Linked DNA regions of Homo sapiens. The protein of the gene in region 1 interacts with the protein of each later gene in a biochemical or structural test. Each region holds a gene or a part of one and is shown on either strand. Other genes may lie near its edges.

The links. The genes of interacting proteins can lie anywhere in the genome.
Region 2: of the proteins of NSMCE2 (region 1) and USP28, one has a biochemical effect on the other in vitro, tested with the Homo sapiens proteins (one study listed by BioGRID).

The regions. Positions count from the first base shown.
Region 1 is NC_000008.11:125,360,749-125,364,497, forward strand, and holds part of NSMCE2 (E3 SUMO-protein ligase NSE2), read left to right. Parts: intron 1-1,308; coding exon of another isoform or gene 1,309-1,369; exon of another isoform or gene 1,370-2,806; intron 2,807-3,749. UniProt on the Homo sapiens protein: E3 SUMO-protein ligase component of the SMC5-SMC6 complex, a complex involved in DNA double-strand break repair by homologous recombination. Is not be required for the stability of the complex.
Region 2 is NC_000011.10:113,868,856-113,872,604, forward strand, and holds part of USP28 (ubiquitin carboxyl-terminal hydrolase 28), read right to left. Parts: intron 1-3,749. UniProt on the Homo sapiens protein: Deubiquitinase involved in DNA damage response checkpoint and MYC proto-oncogene stability. Involved in DNA damage induced apoptosis by specifically deubiquitinating proteins of the DNA damage pathway such as CLSPN.

The DNA of each region.
Region 1 (3,749 bases):
TAGAGTGATGAGTATTTCTGGGTTCGCTTTGTTTAGAAATGTCCATGACACATTGTCTCATTTCTTCCTCCTAGATTGTTCTAGTTATGTTTGTTTTTTTAGACTGGAGTTCCAGGTCCATTGTGTTCTGGGCACTGCCTGAATTTTACTGTGCAAGCTTCAGGCCCTGGGAAGGCCTCTCTGCACTGGCTTGAGTCAGAATAATATTGTTGAGACTTTAGCCCCAGCCAAGCACGGTAGTTAGAATAATTTCCTAAAATATATCTGTTAACAATAAGCCTATTTATTCTCTTAAAAATAAAGCTGCCTTATGATTTCCTTTTTTTTTTTTTCGTTTCTTTTTTCTTTTCCTTTTTTTTTTGAGACAGAGTCTCACTCTGTCTCCCAGGCTGGAGTACAACCTCTGCCTCCCAGGTTCAAGCAATTCTCGTGCCTCAGCCTCCCAAGTAGCTGTGATTACAGGCACATGCCATCACACCTGGCTAATTTTTGTATTTTTAGTAGAGACAGGGTTTCACCATGTTGTCCAGGCTGGTCTCGAACTCCTGGCCTCAAGTGATCTGCCCACCTTGGCCTCCCAACCTTATGATTTTCATATATTAATATTTCTAACCTGACCACAGTCACTTTTTTGCTTTTTTGTTTGAGAACAGGAAACATATTTTTAAAAGTCATATTTAAGAGCATGTAGAATAAAATGAAATTGAATAGAAATGGGTCATTCGACAGCAGAACTCCAGCTTTGTGCTTGGAATTCCTGTTTCAACACTTACCAACAAGCCATTCAACCTTTCTGCCTCAGTTTCCTCATCTGTAAAGTGGAAATAACATCAGCATCTCACAGCACTTCAGGGGCCAAAGAAATGGTAGGGAATTCCATTCTAGGTCTGGACCAGCACATTTCTTGGCAGAAGAGTAGCAAAAGCACTTAGTTGAAAGCTCTTTTGGGAGCGAAGAGCGCTAAACAAATAGCTGTAGGGTTGTTAAGACCGAGGCTGATAGAGTTGTTATCACTCCCCGTGCTGCTTAGTGACACATTATTTGACTCAGGGGTTGTAAGATAGAATTACTGTCTGTGTTGAGGTATGACAGGAATCCCTCCCACTCAGATTTCCAGAGGTCTCTATAGACCTTCTGTCTATAGCTTGTAGACTAAACCTTGGAATTCTTGGGACCCAGATCCAGGAACTCCCAGAATCATGTACTTTTGAGCATTTGCAGAGGCCAAGGTTCCCCACAGCTCTGTGGGACCCCAAGACCCGGTTCCCTTTGCTCAGCAGTCACCTTTGTGTTTGCCCTGTGCTGCAGCGAAATGCTCTGCCCGGGTAGTGCCTGGAGGTGGGGACCCAGCCGCTCCTGCGAGGCCTGAAGGGCTGACTCCTGCACAGCGATGATGCGGCAGCTGAAGATCGGGTATTGCCACACTGAACTCGCTCACCAAGATGTCGTGGGATTAATGCCGAATGCTTACGGAGACAGTTGTTTCTCCAGAGGAGGCATGCCTTGATTCAGCACTGTGGCATGATGGCCTTCTCTTATCCTTTCTGCTTTAAAAACTTGTGTTTATTGGAGACGAAGGAGAAACAAGGTCCTTCCCAGTTCCAGCATCAACCTCGCCTCCAGGAAGTCTTCCCTGAGCCCTTATTCATGCTGGACAAAATGTCGTTAGCACCCCATGTCATGCCAACATTGTCAGTGCAGCTGGCTCCTCTCCACGAGCTTCTTGAGAGCGGAAGCTGTGGACTAGGGCAGGGACTGGTGCACGGCAGGACCTGAAGTGAACTCCCCAGTCCTTGACACACATCAGCCTGCTTATTTCTCAGCCTTATTGGACAGGCTTGTCCTCTGCCTTCATGTTCTTAAAGGGAAAAACTGAGGCACAGAGAATTTAGTCACTTACCCAGAGTGACACAGCCAGGGGGTTTAAGCCCAGGTCTTTCTCATTCTTGAGCCTGCAATTCTGTCAGTAGGCCATCCAGCTCCCCTTGGGAGGGCTATTTGGTTCATGCCTCTACCATCAGAGTCTATCTCCTCAGTGAACTCAGACCTTGTTTGACATGGCTCACTCTGGGATCCATCCCACTGAAGTGAAGGTGGGCGCCTGCTCTGCAGCTGAGTGTGTGGTTAAGTCCATCAGACATTCTCAGCATGCTCTCATGCACTGACTAAAACCATGATGTCATCAGGAAGTCCTCCCCACCTCACTCTCCACTTCCCTCTCCACTGCTTATTCACTGTCTGGCTATGAAAGTTAAGGCCTTTGCTGGGTAGAATGGAAGAGACCAAGGCCAGGCAGTCCAAAGCAGATATTCAGGGTTATGTTTTAAGGGAGGGTCATCCCAGCAACCTACTTGGAGTTGCATTTCAATGTCATGGAAGCCAAAGTTATGATACTTGGCTTTTCTAGTCACAAAAGTGTCTGTATCCTCTTCATGATCTTAGCTGCTTTTTTTCATACTTACAGACATAATTCACCAGGCACGGTGGCTCATGCCTGTAATCCCAGCACTTTGGGAGGCCAAGGCAGGTGGATCACTTGAGCTCAGGAGTTCAGGACCAGCCTGGGAAACATGGTGAAACTCTGTCTCTACCAAAAATTTTTTAAAAATTAGCCAGGCGTGATATTGTGCACCTGTGGGCCCAGCTACTCAGGAGGCTGAGGTGGGAGGATTGCTTGAGCCTCAGAGGCAGAGGTCACAGTAAGCAGAGATAGTGCCACTCCAGTCTGGGTGACAGAATGAGACCCTGTCAAAAAAAGAAAGAGGAAAGAGGAGAGAAAGAAAGAAAGAAAGAAAGAGAGAGAGAGAGAGAGAGGGAGGGAGGGGGAGGAGGGAGGGAGGGAAGGAAGGAGAAAGGAGGAGGGGGAGGGAAGGAAAGAAGGAAGGAAGAAGAGAGGAGGAGGAAGGAGAAGAGAGGAGGGCGGGGAGGGAGGGAAGGAAGGAAGGCAGGAAGGAAGGAAGAAAGGAAGGAGAATTCGCTTTGAGACTTCACAGCGTAGGGGGACAGGCTGGGAAAAAAATACAGATTTTTAAACTAGTGTAAAACATTTCTCCAGCCTTGCCCTAATGCAAAGCCAAATCATCAAAATGATGCATACCTGGGCCAAATCACCCTGATCCTCTTTCATATAATTGCCTTTCTGTAATTATGATTTAACACATCATGTACCTGAGTATGTAGGGCACTTTTTTTTTGTTTGTTTTGTTTTGTTTTGAGACAGAGTCTTGCTCTGTTGCCCAGGCTGGAGTGCAATGGTGCAATCTTGGCTCACCGCAACCCCCACCTCCTGGATTCAAGTGATTTTCCTGCCTCAGCCTCACGAGTAGCTGGGATTACAGGCATGCGCCACCACGCCTGGCTAATTTTTGTATTTTTAGTAAAGATAGGGTTTCGCCATGTTGGCCAGGCTGGTCTCAAACTCCTGACCTCATGTGATCCACCTGCCTCGGCCTCCCAAAGTGCTGAAATTACAGGTGTGAGCCACCGTGCCTGGCCATATTTTAATATTTTAAAAATAAATACTGTTATTAAGCATATTATATTTCATTGATTAATACCCCTCTAATGTAAAAACTCCTTGATCCACAGATCAGGGCCAAGAAATACTTTCTTTCATGTTGGACTGTTGGGCTTCCTACCACTAGACAAATTGGAGCTCCCATGACCAACTTTCTTTCCTTCTGGTTTGCATCTTTACTGTGGTTTGCACATTTGTTGTTTTTGGTCTTAATATCCTGTGCTTTATGGAG
Region 2 (3,749 bases), on another chromosome or scaffold:
GAGGCTGCAGTGAGCCATGATAGAGCCACTGCACTACTCCAGCCTAGGTGACAGAGTAAGACCATGTCTCAAAAAAAAAAAAAAAAGACAAAAGAAAGAAAAGGAATAAATAAAATAAATCTCATATGAGGCCCTTATAAGGCATACTAACATCTGAGGTCAGGCACGGTGGCTCATGCCTGTAATCCCAGCACTTTTGGAGGCTGAGGCAGGATGACTTGGTTCATAAGTTTGAGACCAGCCTGGGCAACACAGAGAGACCCCATTGCTAAAAAAACTTTTAAAATTAACCACAGGCTGGGTTCGGTGGCTCACGCCTATAATCCCAGCACTTTGGGAGGCCAAGGCAGACGGATCACCGGAGGTCAGGTGTTCAAGACCAGCCTGGCCAACATGGTGAAACCCCGTCTCTACTAAAAATACAAAAATTAGGCGTGGTGGCATGTGCCTGTAATCCCAGCTACTTGGGAGGCAGAGGCAGAAGAATCAATAGAACCCGGAAGGCGGGGGTTACAGTGAGCTGATCTCACGCCACTGTACTCCATCCTGGGCAACAGACTGCGGTCCGTCTCAAAAAATAAAATAAAACAAAAGTAGCCAGGTGTGGTGGTGCATACCTGTGGTCCCAGCTACTCAAGTGTCTGAGGATTGCTTGGGTCTGGGTGGTCAAGGCTGCAGTGAGCCTTGACGGTGTCACCACACTCCAGCTTGGGTGACAGAGTGAAACCCTATCTCAAAAAACAAACAAGACATCTCAGTTTCCTCATCAGTAATAGGGTAATAGTTCACACCTTGCTGGGTTTTTGTAAATAAAAATGTATGGAAAAGTGCTTAGGGTGGTACATAGCATATGGCAGACACGAGTAATACAAGTGTACATTCCCATGCCTAGTATAACAACCCTGGGAAAATAAGTATGAAGCAAACGTTTATAGCCAAGGAGGTTGATATTCAAGCAGACCTGTTCAAAAAGCACTGGGAAACAGAGTATAGAAGTCATTTGCAACTCAGGATTAGAAATGTAGATTTGGAGCCAGGTGTTCACGCCTGTAATCCCAGCACTTTGGGAGGCTGAGGTGGGCAGATCACCTGGGGTCAGGAGTTCAAGACCAACCTGACAAACATGGAGAAACCCTGTCTCTACTAAAAATACAAAATTAGCTGGGCATGGTGGTGCATGCCTGTAATCCCAGCCACTCGGGAGGCTGAGGCAGGAGAATCACTTGAACCCAGGAGGCGGAGGATGCAGTGAGCCAAGATCGTGCCAATGCACTCCACCCTGGGCAACAAGAGCGAAACTCCGTCTCAAAAAACAAAACAAGAAAAAAGTAACAGCAAAAAAGTGGTAATGAGGGATCATAAAAGCATAAAATAATAAAAGTATGAGGGGGCCAGGTGTGGTGGCTCATGCCTGTAATCCCAACACTTTGGGAGGCCAAGGCAGGAGGACTGCTTGAGCCCAGGAGTTCAAGACCAGCCTGGGCAACATAGCAAGACCTCGTCTCTATAAAAAATTAAAAAAACAGCCAAGTGCGGTGATGCACGCCTGTGGTCCCAGCTACTCAGGAGGCTGAGGTGGGAGGATCGCTTGAGCCTAGGAGGTCAAGGCCAAAGTGAGCTATAATCACATCGCTGCACCCCAGTCTGGGTGACAGAGGGAGAGATCCTGCCTTGGCAAAGTAGGCTGCTGAGCAGATTCTGATTACATAAAACCACTCACTGCCTTTCAACCTAACCTGCTGCTGCCTAGTCAGTCCCTCTGCAGGCCTCTGAACAATCAGCCATTTGCTGGAGCCCAGACTGGTCCACACGGCCATCTCATTATTTGGCTTTTGCAGAAGCTGTTATTGCCACCTTAAGCTCTGTAGCAGAATCTGGGAACCAACCTTCCTCAATCTCCTGTCAGCTAAGAGTTAGTCTTGCTCAAGTCTGTCTTTTCCAAGTTTTGTATATTGAGTCTGAATACATTGTCACTGGAAAAATGTTTTAGAAATGAAACAGGTGGGGTTAGAAACTTTGTTCCAAAAGCAAACAAGAGGAGGAAGGTGGAGACAACAGCTGGACTGGGCAATAGACACTTTTGTTGTTGTTATTTGGTTTCAAGATAGAGGACAAGTGCACGGTAAAATGGAAAATGCAAATTCAAAATGTAATATGCAAATGAATCACCCAAGAATCTTGTCAAAAGGCAGAAACTGATTGAATAGGTCTAGAGTGGGGGTACAGGCAGTGGTATGCTGATTGGCAGTGTATGCTTGTTTCCTTGGTATAAATATTCCCACCTTGGCACAGTTATCAACACGAGGTCATTGAACACAGAGCTGGAAAGAGATGTACAAAATCAGCTGGAGAGGCAGAGCAAGCTGGCTCTAGCACACTCAACTTTCTGCATGTCTAAATCCTAGGGGATGTGAATGCTGCTGGTCTGTGGACCATAATGTGAGTAGCAAGGGAGAAGACAGTGAAGGTGTCTGGGGGTTAGACTAGGACTAAGGAGAAGGGACATAATAGAAAGAGAAGAGAGACATCATCTAGATCAGAGTTTGTCAAGCTCAGCACTATTTTATACAATTTACACATAACTCTGTTTAGAGGGGCTTACTCCTGTACACTGCAGGATGTTTAGCAGCATTCCCGGCTTCTACGCACTACATTCCAGTAGCATCCTCCCTCCAGAGTCACAATCAAAGTCTCCAGACATTGCCAAATGCTTCCTAGATTACAAAATCTCTCCCTAGTAAAAACCATTAATCTAGGTTTATCTCTAAGAAATGAAAGGGGGAAAAAGGAAGGGAACCTTTTCCACTGAAATAAGAGAAAAGAGATGAGATGGCGTAGGGAGAGGGGGACAAAACAGAAGGCAGGGAGCTCTTTTTAGACATCAGCGAGCTCAGTCAAGTAGAAAAGAAGATTATCTATTTAGAAAGACTGTAGGGAGGACTGGAAGTTTAAAACATTAGGAGAGTTCTAGAAAAGGCATTATAAGAGTAGTGGAAAGTCTGTGATCCAGGGCAATGGGCCCATCAACTATGAGATAGGACCAGGGGCGCCTTGGGCTCTTGGGGTCAGAACTGCCTAGATACAATTCCAACTGTACCATATCCTCACTGGGTGACCTTGGACGAATTACTTAACAAGTATAAGCCTTCTCATAGAAACTTCATGGAGTTGTGTAAGTACTGAGAGAATGCTATGTTAAGTTCTGAGCACCGAGTCTGGCACATAGTGCATGCTCAATTAGCATTAGCTATTACTATTACCAGCATTATTTTCCTTGTTAAGTACTTGCTTCATTTTACTATTGATTTAATTTCTTTGATGAAACAGAACACATGGAGAGATCTCGCCTGGTAAGATGCTATTTGCCAGTAAGTCTTAAAAATACTGTTTGCAGACCGAGGCGGGCGGATCATGAGGTCAGGAGATCGAGACCATCCTGGCGAACACTGTGAAACCCCGTCTCTACTAAAAATACAGAAACATCAGCCGGGCGTGGTGGTGGGCACCTGTAGTCCCAGCTACTCAGGAGGCTGAGGCTGGAGAATGGCATGAACCCGGGGGGCGGAGCTTGCAGTGAGCAGAGATCGCGCCACTGCACTTCAGCCTGGGCAACAGAGCGAGACTCCGTCTCAAAAAAAAAAAAAAATACTGTTTGCATTTGGGGGCAGAGGGGCATGAGAGTTGTGGAACCAATCACTGACTTACTGATGTTTTAAAAATCAGTTAATGAGACAAAAGGAAACGAAAGG